Linked DNA regions of Homo sapiens: region 1 is linked to region 2. The links come from fine-mapping of genetic effects on gene expression. A gene starts in region 2. The other region holds a variant in brackets. All regions are shown on one strand. Distances are from middle to middle. Region 1 overlaps UBXN7 (UBX domain protein 7). Region 2 holds the start of UBXN7 (UBX domain protein 7).

Region 1 (9,294 bases), 83 kb before region 2:
ATAGGTAGTGGTGTCACTGCAGGTCTGGGTGGGGAGGCGTCATCTTAGATGTAAGTGTGATACTTCCAACTATAGGCGCAGTGTAAAAAGTCGGACATGTGAGTCTGAAGCTTGGAGGAGAGACGGGCTGGAGTTGGAGATGTGAGAAATCATTGGCATTATACATGGCGGTTGGTACTATCAGAATGAGATCACAGAGGGAGAGTTAGAGGGCCAGGTCCTGGGGATCACCACCATAAAGACCCAATCAAGGAGGTGCAGGCAGTGAGAAGAAACACCAGGCAGGGCGCAGTGGCTCACATCTGTGATCCCAGCACTGTGGGAGGCCGAGGCAGGTGAATCACTTGAGGTCAGGAATTCGAGACCAGCCTGGCCAACATGGTGAAACCCCGTCTCTACTAAAAACACAAAAATTAGCCGGGCGTGGTGGCGGGCACCTGTAGTCCCAGCTACTCGGGAGGCTGAGGCAGGAGAATTGCTTGAACCTGGGAGGCGGAGCTTCCAGTGAGCTGTGATCAAATCACTGCACTCCAGCCTGGGCAACAGAGCGAGACTCTGTCTCAAAATTAAAAAAATAAAGAATTCTCTACTGGCTCCTTTTCTATTTTTTTTTTTTCATTCTATTAGAATCAGATCTGTTTTTCCATGTATGTTTATCGTCTGTTTCCAACTAGAAAGTAAGTTCCTTGAGGGCAGAGGCTGTATCTGTTTTGCTCCCCATCACATACATCCCTATTATTTGGCACATGAGGCTGGAGCATGGGGATGAGAAATGGTTCCACAAGAAAAGGGGGGGCACAAACCCATCACTGTAGAACTGTGAGCTAAGCAGCAGTCCCTTTTTTTTTTTTTTTTTTTTTTTTTTTGAGATGGAGTCACTCTGTCACCCAGGCTGGATGCTATCTCGGCTCACTGCACCCTCCACTTCCCAGGTTCAAGCAAGTCTCCTGCCTCAGCCTCCCGAGTAGATGGGATTATAGGCACTGCCACCACGCCCGGCTTTTTTCTTTTTTTTTTTTTTGAGACAGAGTTTCACTCTTGTCGCCCAGGCTGCAGTGCAGTGGCACGATCTCGGCTCACTGCAACCTCTGCCTCCTGGGTTCAAGCGATTCTCCTGTCTCAGCCTCCCAAGTAGCTGGGATTACAGGCGGCCGCCACCACACCCAGCTAATGTTTGTATTTTTAGTAGAGACGGGGTTTCACCATGTTGGCCAGGCTGGTCTCGAACTCCTGACCTCAGGTGATCCGCCCATCTCAGCCTCCCAAAGGGCTGGGATTACATGCATGAGCCACTGCATCCAGCAGCAATAACAATTTCTGTCATACCATATAATCGTATCTCCTTTTTGCCCATTAATTTAGTAATTATCTTTCCTTCAATTAAGCTAAGTCCTTAATTAACCATTAGTAATTACTGCTGGTCTGAAAGAACAGACACTGAATATTCGCCCAAGTATGTCAAACACAGAATCATACTTACCTAACAAGCCTAGCTTACCCAATGTTTCTGTAACAACTGGACTAATATTTACAGAGTGTTTACCATGAATGTTTGACATACCACAAAGAGCAGAAAAAAGGCTAGCAAACGTTACACATAACAACGGGACTACAAAGTAACCTTTGTCAATCAATAGTAACTGACCTAAATGAGAACGTGAGGGGGCAAGCTTTTGGAATCTCAATTGTATTACTGAAAGTAATATCCAGAGTCTTATCTTGTAAAAACAACAACACAAAAAAAACTAATACTGAAAAGTTTTTGTTTTTATTTCCAAGATCAAATATTACAACAGGACATTTACATGTATTTATAAAAAAATGCAGCAGTTGAATGTATAGATCAGAGGTTTCCTTGAGTTTGGTCCCTCTCTCAGCACAGTGAGCTGATGTCTTCAAAAGACTTATCGTCCCACTCCCTTCCCTCCCCCACCCCATTGTCCCCCCACCCTCCCCGTTTCAAGTTGCAGTATTAATATAAAGCAACTGGGTACAACACAGCAAGAGTATTCACAATTTGGTACAGACCAAACCAGAGGATCCCCAACTGACAGCAAGATCCTCCTTCTGGAAATTATTACCTATAGACTAGGTAGATCTATAGGTAGATCACACCCAGTTATCTAAGATTTCCCTGGTTTTAGAGCAAGTGGAAGTTCCATTGAGTCTTAGCCAGTAGTTACAACTCTGCGTTACCTAATGGCATGTTTTTCTCCTCTTACAAGTTTAATTTTCTACCGCCTCCATGTGTCTTCAAATTTAAGGCTTTCCCAAGCACCTTTATTATGACTTACTAGATATACAGGAGGGTCTCTAATGTGTCTTGAACAAAAAAATTTAGTGGATGGTCCAGCTGCCCCTTGCTCAACAATCCCAAAGACTTCTTCCCACCACTGAGAAGAGCTGCAGAAATCAACGGTATCTCCTAGCACCATTGGAGAAAAGGCCCAGAAAACAGAATTCGATGTGCATTTTAGGGAGCACTTGCCAGAAACATTACAACAGGAGCACTGTCTCTGTTATCTTCTTGGATTCAATCACAAATTTAGAGTACAGATGAAATTTAGAGCCTGTCCTGCATTAAGAATGCAAATCTCAGTAAGACCACCCCCACACACACTTTGTCCAGAATAAGTTGAGCCACAAACATCCCAGGGAATCTCTAAATACTGTTAGGAACTGCTTTAGAAAACACTTTAAAGCAAATACCCCAAGTTGACTTCACTCAAGCCCCCAACCCACCCTCATCATCCCTATCCCCCTAGAAATTTCATTCCTTGATTAACTTCTCTGAGTAAGATGTAAAGTGAGGTTTGGAAAATGACATGAAACATGAAACATGTTTAAAAACACAATCAATGAAGACATGCCAGAACTGGACATCCCAGGTGACTTCAAATGCATTGTTCAAGCCGAACTCATACAAAGCATGCACAGAGCCTGCACAGACACTGCTGAGAGTTTCCAGGGAACAATCAATACCTACTCGAAAAAGGACTTTCCTGAAGGGCAAACAAAACAAAACAAAACAAAACAAAACAAACAAAACAAAAAGTAACACTGGATGTTTAGAATTTGTTAACAACAACAACAACAAAAAACCATTCTGGAAAAAAAGATTATCAGAGGAGTGAAGAAAACCGTGTCTAACAGATTCATGCCAAAGCTTGGATGGAAGCCCCTCAAAGTCTAAGTATCGTGTTAGCATCAACTGGTACTCATTTCTCTATATCTAAGACTAGAAGATTCTCTCACAGCTTTACTGTTTCCTGGCAAGTGTTTTCAACAGCCTTTCCAGCTGAAGGGACGAACCCAGGAAAGTAACAAGGCCCAAGACCCCACATGGGTCAGATAAGCAGCCCCTACTAGAAGCTTGCTACTCGTTAACTGAAAAGTGGAGGCCACGCACTACTTTCACTCTCTCTAGCAGGTGAAAGGGGATTTTCTGATGGCAACAGTCACTCCGTGTAAGGTTTAACTTACAGGGCAATAAGTTATCAAAAAGTTATTGTTAAAAGCATATGATTAGTGTCATAAACATATTTATATTTGGAATTACACCATTTGATATCTCCATTAAGAATGCAAAGCTTTGAGAAAAGCATACTGTAAAATCATGTTGCTGCAAACAGCAAGGCATCCAGCTGAGTGTAAGCAGTCTAATGTCATCAAACTGAAATGGACCCTCGTGACGGGCACTATGGAACCAGCTACCTAGATAGAGAGAAAAAAGGAGAATGGCAGGGAACGGTTCCAGATCAAGAATCTCTCCCTTATCAGTTAAGAGTTCCATACTGAGTCTATGAAAAAAGCAAATTAAAAAGATTTTAAGAAAGGGGGAATTCAATTCCAGGTCAGAATTTATCTAATGATTTGATATGTTTCCCATTTATCATGTCTAAAAAATGAATGACTCATGCTAACCCAGTTAGATTAATAACTTCTTTTGATGAGAAAAAATATTACTTAGGTTTAGTCCAGCTTAGCTTGACTATTCTTCCCATTTGAAAACCCAAATGACCTTTAGAAGGGATATAAAATACCCAGAGTATTGTGATCTCTAGAGAGGAAATACAATTAAACAATAAAAACTTGCTGTTTGTTGCCAAAGAATTAAGTACAATAATGCGACTTCTCATATTTATAGATTAATCTGTGATTGCTCTTGGGAAAAATACTATCATTGGTATTTGCCATCTCTAATCCTAGAAATAAATCTGGTTATCTTTTGAAAATACTTTCTCATTACAGGAATGCTAAATTATGTTTATTAAAGTAGTTCAAATTGGATTGCCCAACTTTATTTTGAAATCAATAGCAAAGAAAGGCCTGTGCCAAAAATCATCATGTTTATGAGAATATCTGCAATTTTAAGCAACACAACAGCAACTGGTAGGCCACAAAGAGGGTGGGGTATCACAGAGCTAGCCATTCTCTATATGAAACCAGAGAATTCTCCTTAACTAGGGAGAAAATGAGCTATAAAAGTAAGTTTGCCTCAAAAATGTCCTTCAATTTTATAAAAAATGAAGATTGTTACATATTAAGACTTTGAAATGGAATTTCTTAAACATAGCCAATTACACTAAAAATCATAACTATTTTCAGAGAATGAATGTTAAAAATAAATGGTGGAGAAGTAAAATGGAAAGCAGGATTAAAAGATTTCTAATTAAGGGTCTGTCACTTCACAGGACAACTAGCAAGGCCATTATAATCTCTATTTTTAAAAAGACATCAAGAAATTCTTGATTCTATACTGTCTCTCTAGCAGGACTGACACACAGGTGAGTCAAAAACCATAACCATCACTGAAATACCAAATCTCTATGTAACAGGAGAAACCGATATATTGGTATGGTATTCTCTGTTGGGTTATCTGCAGTTCTAAAGAACATTCTTGCCACTATTCTAAAATGTGTACAGTGCAACACCATGTTTCACGGCAAGACAATAACTGAAAAGCTAAGCCAGGCAATCCAGTGAAGTTGAATGTCCATAGTACACAGCTGTCTTTAGCCTATTCATCAAGGCTGGTATTACCGGAAAACTGCCATGTTCACCAGAAGAGCTGTCTCTTCCTATGCTCATTACATTTTAGTTTTACAAAGACTACTAATTCATCAGCCTGCACCCCATGATTTACTACTGCGTAGTTACATGATGGTCAAAAAAGGCAGAGAGACGGTAAGAATGACATAATAAAGATACATTCTGTGGAATAAAAAACATTTTTAAGTCAGCCTAATTGTATCTTTAAAAAGCTGTTTCTGCCAAAACCAGGTGTGAATCTTATACAAATCAATTTCCCAACAGGCCAGTAAAGTACTTTAAGTACACAAGTAAAAATAAAATTTAGTGCCAG[C/A]GTTAGTGTCATATTTGGTTCTCATTTACATTTTAGTCATACTCAACACTGATTAGGCACACAGCATTAAGTTTTAAAAAATAATGAATTGTTTACAAGATTATTATTACTAGACCTATAACTACTATACTCTCCTCTTTGGAGATTTCAGTCATCGCAGTAAGATTAAGAGCAAGTTGTTGGTCAAATGATACCTGAACACAGAATAAAAAAAAGAGAGAAAAAAAAAGTAAAGAAACTGATTAACCAGCACACTTTTAATTAGCCTAGGGATAATACGCAATCACGGGGAGAGACTGGAAGCATGAAATTTTGGAAAAGGACTTCAGAGATAATCTAATTTGTTGTTCTAGAAAAGGCTGAGAACTATTAATCTAGTCCAATTATCTCATTTTTCAGACGAGAAACCAGAGATTAAGAAGAAAGAGAAGTGTGAAGGTAACAACTAGCAGAGCTGTTACCCAAAGGGCTCTCACACCTCCAGTGCCCTTTCTGCATATAACATATACTATACTATGCATTGGATTTGTACCTGGGTAGAGAAATTAAATCTTTCCTTCATTTTTCGGTTGCTAGTGGCTCCCTCTGGTATTTTCCCTAAGTGTGCAAGTAAGATTCCTGCGAGCTAGGAATCTTTACTCCGGGGGATCAATAGTGAGATCCCCGCAAGCTAGGAATCTTTACTCCAGGGATCAATAATCCTTTCCTACTTGGGTACTGGTTATGCCTTAGTGGCAGAACTTCATGCCCCAAATCTAGAAGTTACAAAAGGTGGAGCTAAAGAAAAAGGTGAGTCAAAAGAAAACGTGAGCTACAGTGCTTGCCACTTCAGTCTTGTTTAAGACTTTGCTAACTAAAACATATTCTTCCCTTTTTCTAAGTTTGAACTAATAGGTAAACATTTACATGCTCTCCAATTATTTCATGTGTAGTGTGTCTCTCTAACTGGATAAAACAGGCAGGAATCATATCTTATTTATTATTTTTTGAGACAGAGTCTCGCTCCATTGCCCAGGATGGAGTGCAGTGGTGTGATCTCGGCTCACTGCAACCTCCGCCTCCCAGGTTCAAGAGATTCTTGTGCCTCAGCCTCCCCATTAGCTGGGATTACAGACAGCCACCATGCCTGGCTAATTTTTGTATTTTTCAGTAGAGATGGGGTTTCACCATGTTGGCCAGGCTGATCTCGAACTCCCAACCTCAGGTGATCCACCCACCTCGGCCTCCCAAAATATTGGGATTACAGGCATGAGCCACCACACCTGGCCAGGAATTAGATCTCAGATTTCAAAATACTTCCAACTTCTATAAAGAACTCAATAGCTAATTGTTGACTTGTAAGTCAAGGAAGTAGAATTATATACAAGATTTAAAAACATACACACAGAGGGTTCAATAATCTGGTATGGATGGGACACAGAAAACAGAATTGTAGATCGGGCGCAGTGGCTCATGCCTGTAATCCCAGCACTTTAGGAGGCCGAGGTGGGCGGAACACGAGATCAAGAGATCGAGACCATCCTGGCCAACATGGTGAAACCCTGTCTCTACTAAAAATGCAAAAATTAGCCGGGCGTGGTGGCGCTCACCTATTAAAAAAGGTAATTGTATCTTTTCTGAAAAATGTTTAAAAAAAGAAAAAATTGTTTTTTTACCCTTTTCATTTATTCTTGGCAAATAATGCCACGTGGCAATTTTACTTTCACATCTTCACCAGTGCATCATTTTAAAAAAGCAATAATCAGCCTCTCAAAATAATGGCATAAATAAAAATGTATAGGCATAGTGCAAATCCCACAACTTTAACCCAACTACTTCCTCTATATTTATGGGAACAAAACTAAGTGACACTTTACAAAGCCAAACAATGAGAAGAGAATCATCTGGGTAGCTTGATTCTCTTGCTGAAGGAGACCACAGCATGGACTCTGGATTCCAATTCTGATTTGCCACTCACTAGCTATGAGTCCTGAATAAGTTCTCTATACCTGTTTTCTTAACATGGGAAGAAAGTATACATTTTGTACGATTCTTCGGGAGATTGAAGAGGCAAATGTACACAAAAGTATCTGGTGCATGCCAATTAGTATTAAGTTTCCTGTTCTTTTCTCATTTGGCACTGTTGTTTTCTCTTCTCCAGTTCCTTCCGATACCAATTTCAAAAAAGTATTCCTCTCACTTTTTTCCCACTAGTTTTCTTCTTCTTCTTCTTTTTTTTTTTTAAATTTGAGATGGAGTGTCGCTTTGTCGCCCAGGCTGGAGTGTAATGGTGCGATCTTGGCTCACTGCAACCTCTGCCTCCCAGGTTCAAGCCATTCCCCTGCCTCAGCCTCTGAGTAGCTGGGATTACAGGTGCACGCCACCACACCCAGGTAATTTTTGTATTTTTAGTAGAGACGGGGTTTCACCATGTTGCTCAGGCTGGCCTCGATCTCCTGACCTTAGGTGATCTGCCCACCTCCGCCTCCCAAAGTGTTGGGATTACAGGCATGAGCCACCGCGCCCGGCCTTCCTGGTAGTTTCCATTCCATCTCCCTGTATTTTTCTCTTATCACTCTCGAAGTCTATCTTTCTTGTTCTTTTCCTCCCTAGCTTTTTTTTTTTAAACACTCCTTTCAAGCTGTGTCCAACACCCACAAGGAATGACTATTTTTAACTAATCTTACTGACCTCATTTAATCTATTCAATAAAACCTCTGCCCTAAGGAGCAAAGAAACTTGCAGAGGAAGTAAGGCAAACTGGAAGAAGCATACTGTCAGCGGATTAAATTCTTGAGCAAGGCAATACTCCTTATGGATTCTTCCCATGTACAATCCGTAACTCTTCCCATGGGCCTTTATATCAACCCTAAGATAATTACACTCCTGCCTCAAAATAAAATAAAATAAAACCCACCACATCTTGTATTGTAGACATCCCAGCTGCATGTTAAGCTGAGTGAAAGTACCATGCTGTCTTTTAAATCACTTTATATCTACTTAATCATCCCACAGTAACCCGAGTTGAAGAAGTTACTTTGGTTTCTCATAAATGAATATGCACGTGCTGAACATATCGGAAAGAACCACACCCTCTCACTGATGAACACGTTGGCAGTTCTCCCAACTGTTTTATCAAGAGAAGCTAGAAGGTAAAGAAAAGGAAACAGAGCCCTATAGGAAAAATGATTGACTTCACACGTTTGAGCGATTTGGGCTTCAGCTATGACTTTGCTGGAGTACAGATGGGTGCCATCAGAGCACAAAGCTGAGCAAACCTCTCTTCTTACCCTGTGCCCTCCCTGAATTTTTGGATTTCTGAGCTTGTCTACTACCAACAAATGTTTTACCCTCCAGTGCACCTTTGACAGTATACAGCTCTATTTTTCAAACGGCAAGTATGTTATCCAAGTTCAGAGATGCAACTGAGGAATTAACATGAAAACCATCTTTCACTCAATAAATCAGAAGCTGCTAGTTAAGTAAGCCTCAAGAACCTAAGAAAAAACACCAAAGTGTAAGTATTACTCAGTCACCAATCTAAAGACAGAACTTTGACTCAAGGTAGAAATGAAACCGTAATTATATAAATATATTTATAAATATTTATACAATTATATACTTATACATAAGCACTTACACAGACTTAGAAAAAAATTTAAGAACATTAATTCAAAAGGACTCACTGAAGAATAAACAGATTTTTCCATGATTTCCTTGAGGAGATATAAAACTCATTCTTTAGGGAGAGTTCCTCAAAATTCAACCATTAGAAACCATATCCTATAACTGTGTACTAGCAACACATGGCATCTTTTTTTCTTCTTTTCCCAAATCCCCTAATTGCCAAGAGAGCAATCTTAAAGTAGATGAAAACCTAAAGGTCTCTACGCAACATCTGAGGAACATACGCTCCTCAGATAAAAGAATCAATCTAAATCCTCAACTGA
Region 2 (9,294 bases):
TCAAAATTATTTCGGCCAGGTGCAGTGTCCCACGCCTGTAATCCCAGCACTTTGGGAGGCCAAGGTGGGTGGATTGCTTGAGCCCAGGAGTTCAAGACCAGCCTGCACAACAAAGTGAGACCCCATCTCCACAAAAAATAAAGAAAGTTACCCTAGAGGCTGCAGTGAGCCGTGATCACACCACTGCACTCTAGTCTGGGTGGCAGTGTGAGACCCAGTCCGTCTCAAAAAAAAAAAAAAAAGTTTTTATGATATTGTCTTTTTAATAATCTTTTTTAATCAGCCATTACTGAACCAGGCACAGTGATGTGCACCTGTAGCCCCAGTTACTGGGAGGGCTGAGGCAAGAGGATGGCTGAGCCCAGAAACTGGAGAACAGCTTGGGCAACAAAGAGAGGAGACCTCCATCTCTTAAAAAAAAAAAAAAAAAATCAAAAATCCGTCATTAGGCCAGGCGCGGTGGCTCACACGTGTAATCCCAGCACTTTGGGAGGCCGAGGCAGGCGGATCACGAGGTCAGGAGATCGAGACCATCCCAGATAACACGGTGAAACCCCGTCTCTACTAAAAATACAAAAAATTAGCCAGGCGTGGTGGCAGGCGCCTGTGGTCCCAGCTACTTGGGAGGCTGAGGCACGAGAATGGTGTGAACCTGGGAGGCAGAGCTTGCAGTGAGCCAACATCACGCCACTGCACTCCAGCCTGGGTGACAGAGCGAGACTCCGTCTCAAAAAAAAAAAAAACATCAGTCATTATTTCATACTCACTGAATCAGAGAGAGATCTGTTCTATTCAGTAAGAAATAAGACTTTTCTAAAATCTTTCAATTTTCCGTTCTATTTCTAAATGCCAAAAAAAGATAAGACTCACATTTATTTTTATTTTTTCTTTTTCTTTTTTTTGCTCCTGCCTAAAAAGTAAGGACTCACATTTTTGATGATGCATTTGTTTTTACAAGAATATTGAGCTTCCAAGTAAAACCTTTGTGAAATCAGAGCATAAGCTATTAAGGTCACTAAAATAAATATAAAATACCTTTTAATTATAAACACTACGATTAAAACGTATGTGGAGAGAACCCCAAAAAAATTTTAAGACATGTAAAAAAGGCAAAAAGAAATCAATCATGTGTTTCTAACGGTTAATCACTATCTTGTAAAAAGAATCCCAAAAATTATCAATAGAAATTCACAATATTTGAAGAACACTCAAAGGTATTTTCGCTCTGTAGATCTCCAGATACCACTGTCTACTGATTGAGGGACTCCAACTTGATCCAGCAATCAAGCTACGTAGACGAACAGAAACAGAATTAAAGCAATTAAGTGAGTCAATTCAACTCACCACACTTCGGTTTTTGTGTGTACCTAATAAAAATGTTGCAACAGAAGAAGTAATGTGGCGTTAAACCAATCAGAGTTTGGGAAGAGTAGTAATTAGCATAAGAAACTGAAAATTAATTAAGTGGCTTTTAGGGCCAGGCGCGGTGGCTCACGCCTGTAATCCTAGCACTTTGGGAGGCTGAGGTGAGTGGATCATTTGAGGACAGGAGTTCAAGACCAGCCAGGCCAACATGATGAAACCCCGCCTCTACTAAAAATACAAAAATTAGCCGGGCCTGGTGACAGGCGCTTGTAGTCCCAGCTACTCGGGAGGCTGAGACAGGAGAATCGCTTGAACCCGGGAGGTGGAGGTTGCAGTGAGCCAAGATCGTGCCTGGGAGATCTGCACTCCAACCTGGGCAACACAGCGAGACTGTCTCAAAATAATAATAATAATAATAATAATAAGTGGCTTTTTTTTTCTTTTTGAGAAATGATCTTGCTCTGTTGCCAGGGATGGAGCGCAGTGGTATGATCTACTCACCGCAGCCTTGAACTCCTAGGCTCAAGCAATCCTCCCACCTCAGCCTCCCCAGTAGCTGGGACTACATGTCGGTGCCACTACATCCAGCTCATTTTCTTATTTCTGTAGAGATGGGGCCTCACTATGTTTTGCCCAGGCTGGTCTGCAACTCCTCGCCCCATGTGAATCTCCAGCCTCCGTCTCCCAAACTGCTAGGATTACAGGCGTGAGACACCGCGCCAGGCCCAAGTGGCATCATAAACCATCTCTAGGAAATCTAAAGGATTAATAATGATATTCACTTCTCTATCAGATTCACTGCAAAGATTTTTCTATATAAGCATAATGCAGCAACACTAACTTATATACACAATAATCTTCTCCATAGCAATGATTTGTCAGACATTAGGAAATCCTTTACATATTTAATATAATAATCCAATCCTTTATATCTTCAATAATCCAATCACAAAGTTCAAAAATATTAAGAGAAGTTATCATGCAACTCCTCACCCCAATTTTATTGCAAATTTTACTTTACTTTGACCTGATGTTCCATGCCCACAAGCTAGATAACAATGCGTCAAATATCTCGTTATCATTGCAAAGCAAAAAAATAAAACTTGCTTTAATATAAAACGGTAACTAGTATACAACCTGTAGTAGTTAAAACAATATAAAATTTTACTTAACCAGATATTGCACGTTAAACTCTAGGAACATTAACAGTGGAAACATTCTCCGCATCTAACAAATTACGAGATAAAGTATAGATCCGTTGAGAGGGAACTAACATTCTGACCTCCTTCCAAAACGACAAACTAGAACGGCAAAATTACACTCAGGCACATTGGAGTACTCTTCTCTCAAATCACTCCACAGAGAACTTCATCATTTGCTCCGCCCTCTAATAACTCATGCAAGAAAAGTTCAGCACCATCAGAGAGAAACAAGACAGAGAGAATTCATAGAATGGCTTTAGGGCCTTTCCTCCAGGCGGTAAGAGGATCTGCGTGTGTCCTTCGCAGGGGTCCAAAGGGAGAGAACCTAGGCCTAGGGTTTCGGGGATACCGACACCCAGAAACAGATTTTCTCTCAAAGAAGTTTCTGCCGCCATCCCTATCTTATCAGCAGGAGGCCCCGGCGCCATCGTCTCCGTCTTTATGATTTTATTATGGGGAGGTGGGAAACGCCACCCTGGATTCTTCCAGGCCTCCCCTATTCAGCTTGGGGGTTCCCCCTCATTCTTCCCTCAAAGCCTCAGTCCCTGAGGTCCTCCTCAGCACCCCCCGCTTCTGGCGGCCTGTCCCCCGTGAAGTGTAAAGGCACGGCCGAACCCACCGGCCTTGCCGTGAAGGCGGGAGGGCCCGAACCCGCCAGGGCCACGGCGATGGCTCCGAGGGGCCCAGAAAGGGGAAGGGCAGGCCGGGGACCGGGGCAGAATGACCTGGCCGGGGAAGAAAGGAAAAAAGGAGGTGAGGAGATGCACCGCACCGCAGGGCTGCACAGAGAAGGGAAGATGATGAAGGAGGAGGAGGAGGGCGGTGGCCCGGGTGCGGCCCCCTACTCCTCCCGCCCCCGGGTCCCCGGGCCGGCGGGGGCGGACGGACTCGGCCCATTCCCAGGTCTGGGCTGGCGGGGGGTTGGGGGATCTCCCTCCACGCTACTAGGAGACAGAGAACGAGGGTATCGGGAGCGGGGGGGGGCTGTCTCCCGCCTGAACCCGGAGACCCCGACGCCGTCGTCGCCTCTTCCTCAGGAGGGAGGACGGCAGCTGTGGGTAAAGCCCGAAGGAGGAATGCCTGAAGGTAAGGGGAAGCCCGGGGCAGACCCGCTGCCCGCTCCGGACCCCACTCTCCACCTTCCGGTAACCGCGTCTCTTACCGGTAATGGTGGTGAACTGTTGAATTAACCCCTTCAGCGCCGAGGACGCCGCGGAGCCCCCGTGGGCAGCCATCTTACCGCCGCCGCCGCCGCCGAACAACAACACAGACACACACGGACTGCCCTCCCCCACTTCGCCGTGCGGTGTGCGCAGGCGCATTGACCGCCCCTCGAGCCCCGCCCCTCCCGTCCCCAGCGGTCTGCGCAGGCGCATTTTCCGACCGGGCCCGCGCGCTCCCAGCTCTCGGGTTGGCTGCTCGGTTGCTGCCTGCTCAGTGCATCCTTTTTGCCATTGCTGGTGCCTTCCTCTCCGGGCTCCAAGGCTAGCCTCGCAGGCGCGGTGTCGATTCCTAGATTCCGAAGGAAGCTTCGGTCTCGGCAGATAGTTCTTCGCATTTCAGCTTCGCAAGCTTTATTGACAGAGCCAACTGCCGATGACAGCATTTTTCTGTTTTGCGGTTGTACCGCACTCTATTAGGTTTCCTGCAGGTCCCATCAAAATGCAAACCCTACCTCCTCGCTTTGAAGCGACTCTCCCCGTACTCGCCCCCCAGCCTCTAAACTAATGGCTTAGCTAACCGATTGCGACGAGTGAAATACCAGAACCCTTCATGCCAAAGAAAGCACTTAGCGCGGGGTTGCCACCCAGTAGGTTTTCATAAACGATTGTTTAGTCTGCTTTCCTTAAATAAATTGGCCATCACGTCTCCCGTTAGGGTCTTAATGAGACCCCAAGAGGCGTCATTTGTATAAAAAGAAACTCTGTATATGCAGTAGAGGAAAGAAAACATATAGAAAGGAGACTGGAAAAGTGTGCTCAAAACGCTGGTAACGGTTACCTCCAGAGAAGAGAACGATCGGGACGATGGTCAAAGCGGACCTTACTTCGAGTTTCTTATTTATCTTTTTATTTTTAAACAAACATTATTGGCCGGGCGCGGTGGCTCATGACTGTAATCCCAGCACTTTGGAAGGCCGAGGTGGGAGAATCGCTTGAGGCAAGGAGTTCGAGACCAGACTGGGAAATATATCAAGAATCCATCTCAAAAAAAAAAAAAAAAAAAAGATATTCGTGTGTTCCTTGAATAATTTTAAGTATTTTGCAAAACAGTTACATGAGTGGGGTGCGCTCAAATCCAATAATCCCCCACCTTGCCCATAAAGTTAAAAGAGATTCCAAGTGATTCCGTTTGTTTTAGCCTCCCACCTTCCAACCTCCACCCACATATTTTGCATCTTCATAGGAAAATGGCCCAATAAAAGATGGGATGAGCTGTCTGAAGAATTGACACATCCTAAGAGTAAACATGCTATTGGGGAGAATTAAGAAAGAGCCATGTCAAATCAAGGGGTATAGTTTTTTGTTTTGTTTTGTTTGACAGGGAGTCTCGCTCTGTCGCCCAGGCTGGAGTGCAGTGGTGCAATCTCAGTTTACTGAAAGCTCCGCCTCCCGGGTTCAAGCGATTCTCCTGCCTCAGCCTCCCAAGTAGCTGGGATTACAGGCACACGCCACCACGCCTGGCTAATTTTTGTATTTTTAATAGAGACGAGGTTTCACCATGTTGAGCAGGCTAGTCTCAAACTACTGACCTCAAGTGATCCACCCGCCTCGGCCTCCCAAAGTGTTGGGATTACAGGCGTGAGCCACCACACCCAGTCGGGCTGTAGTTTCAAGAAGATATGATTGATGTAAAAGAAAGCAGACTCCAGTAATCCCAGCACTTTGGGAGGCCGAGGCGGGCGGATCGCCCGAGGTCAGGAGTTCCAGACCAGCCTGGTCAACATGGCGAAACCCCATCTCTACTAAAAATACAAAAATTAGCTGCTGTGGTGGCGCGGGCACCTGTAATCCCAGCTACTTGGGAGGCTGAGGCAGGAGAATCACTTGAACCCGGGAGGCAGAGGTTGCAGTGAGCCGAGATCATGCCACTGTGCTCCAGCCTGGGTGACAGAGCAAGACTCCGTCTCAAAAAAAAAAATGTATTTTAAGTTAAATGACAGATTGGTCCTGGCACTGCCTTCCAGGTTGCTGCAGTTCTCTAGATGGGCTGAGGAAGGGCAGGGATCAGTCATAAATTTCGGCAGCTGATTCCTTCACATTTGATGCAGAGGTGCAAAAACAGGCAAGGGAAGAAAGCCAAATCAAGAAAGTGTTACCTCTGTCTCCCTTCATCCTAAAGGCTGAGTCACTAGCCAGCCATGCAAAATCAAGCTCCACGTAAAATGGTATAACACCATTAACTACAAAAACTAAACACAGTGATTACTGTACCTCCATCAGATGGAGAGGCCAGTAATGAGCTCTGCAGGTTTATCAGGTTTATTTCCAAAATCTTATAATTCAGATTTAATGATATGATTTTGATTAACAGTGCAGGAAAAGGTGATAAAGTCTGTGGCATCCACAACTCCAGAAGGCATTTTTTTAGAAATTAAAAAATAAGATAAAAGAAAATTAGACAGGTGGCCAAAAAGATTCCATGGTCGGGGGGAGGGGGGGAAAGAAGGGAAGAAAATGAGACAGTTTCCATGGATAACCAGGGAACTGGGAAAAATAAATAAAGAAGTAATGAATAATACAACCTTGAAAAGCTTTTTTGGATTATTAAAGAATATGAAGGACTGACCAGTTGCGGTGGCTCACACCTGTAATCCCAGCACTTTGGGAGGCCGAGGCTGGGGATCACCTGAGGTCAGGAGCTCCAAACCCGCCTGACCAACATGGTGAAACACCATCTTTACTAAAAATACAAAATTAGCTGGGCGTGATGGTGCGTGCCTGTAATCCCAGCTACTCGTGTGGCTGAAGCAGGAGAATCGCTTGAGCCCGGGAGGTGAAGTTTGCAGTGAGCCAAGAATGAGCTACTGCACTCCAGCCTGGGCAACAGAGTGAGACTCCGTCTCAAAAAAAAAAAAAAAAAAAAAAAAAAAGAATATGAATATGAAGGATGGGTGTCGTGGCTCATGCCTGTAATCCCAGCACTTTGGGAGGCCAAGACAGGAGGATCACTTGAGCCCAGGAGCTTGAGACCAGCCTAGGCAACATAGGGAGACCCTATCTCTGAAAAAAGAAAAAAAAAGTTTAATTAGCCAGGTGCGGTGGTGCAAGCTTGTAGTCCCACCTACTCTGGAGGCTGAGGCGGGAGGATCACTTGGGCCCAGGTGGTCGAGGCTGCAGTGAGCCATGATGACACCACTGCACTCCAGCCTGGGTAAGATATGTGGAAATCACAAGGAACAGTGGAGGATCTCATACTAGTAACAGTAGAACTGTCACAACCCATACGTCCAAAGAGATGAGAACAGAGAGAAGTTAGAGAAATCCCAAGTGAGATTTTTTTGCAGAGCAAACCACCATGCAAGAAGCAATGACCTTCTGTCAAGGGACATAAATAAGCAGCTTGAGGCAATCTCAGAGAGGAGCTCAGGGACATAGATACCCTGACCTCGATCTCCTCTTCTGTCTCCTGCCAGGAATCCCCAATGGCTGAACCCAAATGGAAGACAGAGGGCACAGCAAGAAGCCCCTTGTAGTTCCCACAGGCAGCCCCGGGGCAGAGAGCAGGATGGAAAAGAGGAAATTGATGGACACAAATGTAAAATGGAATGGTCATGGAAATACATTCCAAAACTTGAGGAGCTTTTTGGTTTGTTTGGGTCTTTTTTGTTTCATCTTGTTTTGTTTTTTGAGACAGGGTCTCTCTCTGTCGCCCAGGCTGGAGTGCAGTGGCAGGATCTTGGCTCACTGCAGCCTCTGCCTCCTGGGTTCAAGCGATTCTCCTGCCTCAGCCTCCCAAGTAGCTGGGATTACAGGAGCAGGCCACCATGCCCAGCTAATTTTTGTATTTTTAGTAGAGACAAGGTTTCACCATGTTGGTCAGGCTGGTCTTGAACTCCTGACATCAAGTGATCCACCTGTCTCAGCCTCCCAAAGTGCTGGGATTACAGGGTGAGCCACAGAGCCTGGCCCGAAACTGATGGAGTTTTAACAGAAGCTAAAGGAGAATATATAAGCTTAACTGGTTATATTAGAGAAGAAGACTGGAAAATAAGTAGCTCAGCATTTCATCAAGAAGTTAATAAAGGAACAACAACTCAGCAGACAAGGAAAAATGTGAAGAAAAAATGCTAAAGAGCAGAAATTGACAAAATAGAATACAAAATACAGAAGAGAGGATTCATAAAACCAAAAGCTGGTTCTCTGAAATAACAATATGTAAAACCTTTGACAGGCCAGGTGTGGTGGCTCACACCTGTAGGCCCAGCACTTTGGGAGGCCGAGGTGGGTGGATCACCTGAGGTCAGGAGTTCCAGACCAGCCTGGCCAACATGGTGAAACCCCGTCTCTACTAAAAATACAAAAATTAGCTGGACGTGGTGGCGGGCGCCTGTAATCCCAGCTACTTGGGAGGCTGAGACAGTAGAATCACTTGAACCCAGGAGACAGAGGTTGCAGTGAGCCGAGATTGTGCCATTGCACTCCCGCCTGGGTGACAGAGTGAGACTCCATCTCAAAAAATAAAAAAATAAATAATAATAAAACCTTTGACAGATTAAGAACAAAGAGAAAGACACAAACAATATTATGAAAAAAAGACATAGCAGACATAGCCGTGGCTTGAAAAATAAGAGAATATTATGAATAATTTTATGCTGATGAATTAGGAAATAGATAAATGACAGTTTCCTAGAAGAAATAATTAACAAAATGGAACTCAACTATGCATAGACTTATGACCATTAACAAAATGAAATCTGCCACACAAATGACCACACCCCAGTGATTTTACAGGAGATTGCTACCAAAAAAGTTAAGAAACAGATTATCCCAAACTTATACAAATGCTTCCAGATAAAGAACAATGGGAACAAACAGCTCATTCTATAAGGGTAGCATAACCTTGAAATCAAATCAAACAAAATAATAAATGAGAATTCATCCTCACTCATGGCTACTGAAACAGATATCTTAAATTAAATCAGAATTTAGAAATCCACATATTCACACATACATGTACATATTTTTTTTATTGGGTTTACTTCAGGAATGCAAGCATAATTTTACAGTAAAAAGCTCTTACAAATGGCACAGTTGCTCGCCCCTGTAATCCCAGCTACCTAGGAGGCTGAGGTAGGAGGACCACTGGAGCCCAATTGTCTAGGAGTTTGAAGCTGAATGAGCTATAATTGCACCCTGCACACTCCAGCCTGGACACCAGAAACTCCAGAAAAAAAAAAAAAAAACACCTCTGTCAATGTAATTCACCATAGTAAAACAAATTAAATAAGAGAAATTATTTGATTCATTTGATCAGACACAGGAAAACCATTGATATAAATGCACATCCATTCACAAAATGTTTTAAAAACCTTAACAAACTACATAAAGAAACTTCCTTAATCTAATAAAATGTATCTACCAAAAATGCAGAGTAAACAGCATCCTAGTTAATAATTAGACATTTAAAGTCAGTAACAATAATGCGTTCTATTATTACGTCTACTCAATATTATTCTAGAGGTTCTAACCATGGCAGTGAGACAAGAATAGGCAGTAAATTAAAA

The links. PIP is the estimated chance that this variant, and not a neighbour inherited with it, causes the effect.
Region 1: its variant is fine-mapped to the expression of UBXN7 in whole blood (TOPMed, PIP above 0.99).

The regions. Positions count from the first base shown.
Region 1 is chr3:196,345,913-196,355,206 of GRCh38, forward strand. UBXN7 (UBX domain protein 7) reads right to left here. Exons shown (of 11, transcript NM_015562.2): 11 at 1,750-9,294. Among named protein-coding and RNA genes, the nearest start is that of TM4SF19-DYNLT2B, 12 kb to the left of the region's middle. The variant C/A (reference allele first, on the strand shown) is at 5,366.
Region 2 is chr3:196,428,598-196,437,891 of GRCh38, forward strand. It overlaps UBXN7 (UBX domain protein 7), which reads right to left and starts at 3,830. Exons shown (of 11, transcript NM_015562.2): 1 at 3,730-3,830. The coding sequence starts at 3,802. It overlaps UBXN7-AS1 (UBXN7 antisense RNA 1), which reads left to right and starts at 2,788. Exons shown (of 2, transcript NR_046745.1): 1 at 2,788-2,844; 2 at 3,605-4,437. RefSeq lists enhancers at 2,587-3,361, 2,938-2,987, 3,362-4,135, 4,068-4,147 and silencers at 3,698-3,757, 3,778-4,027.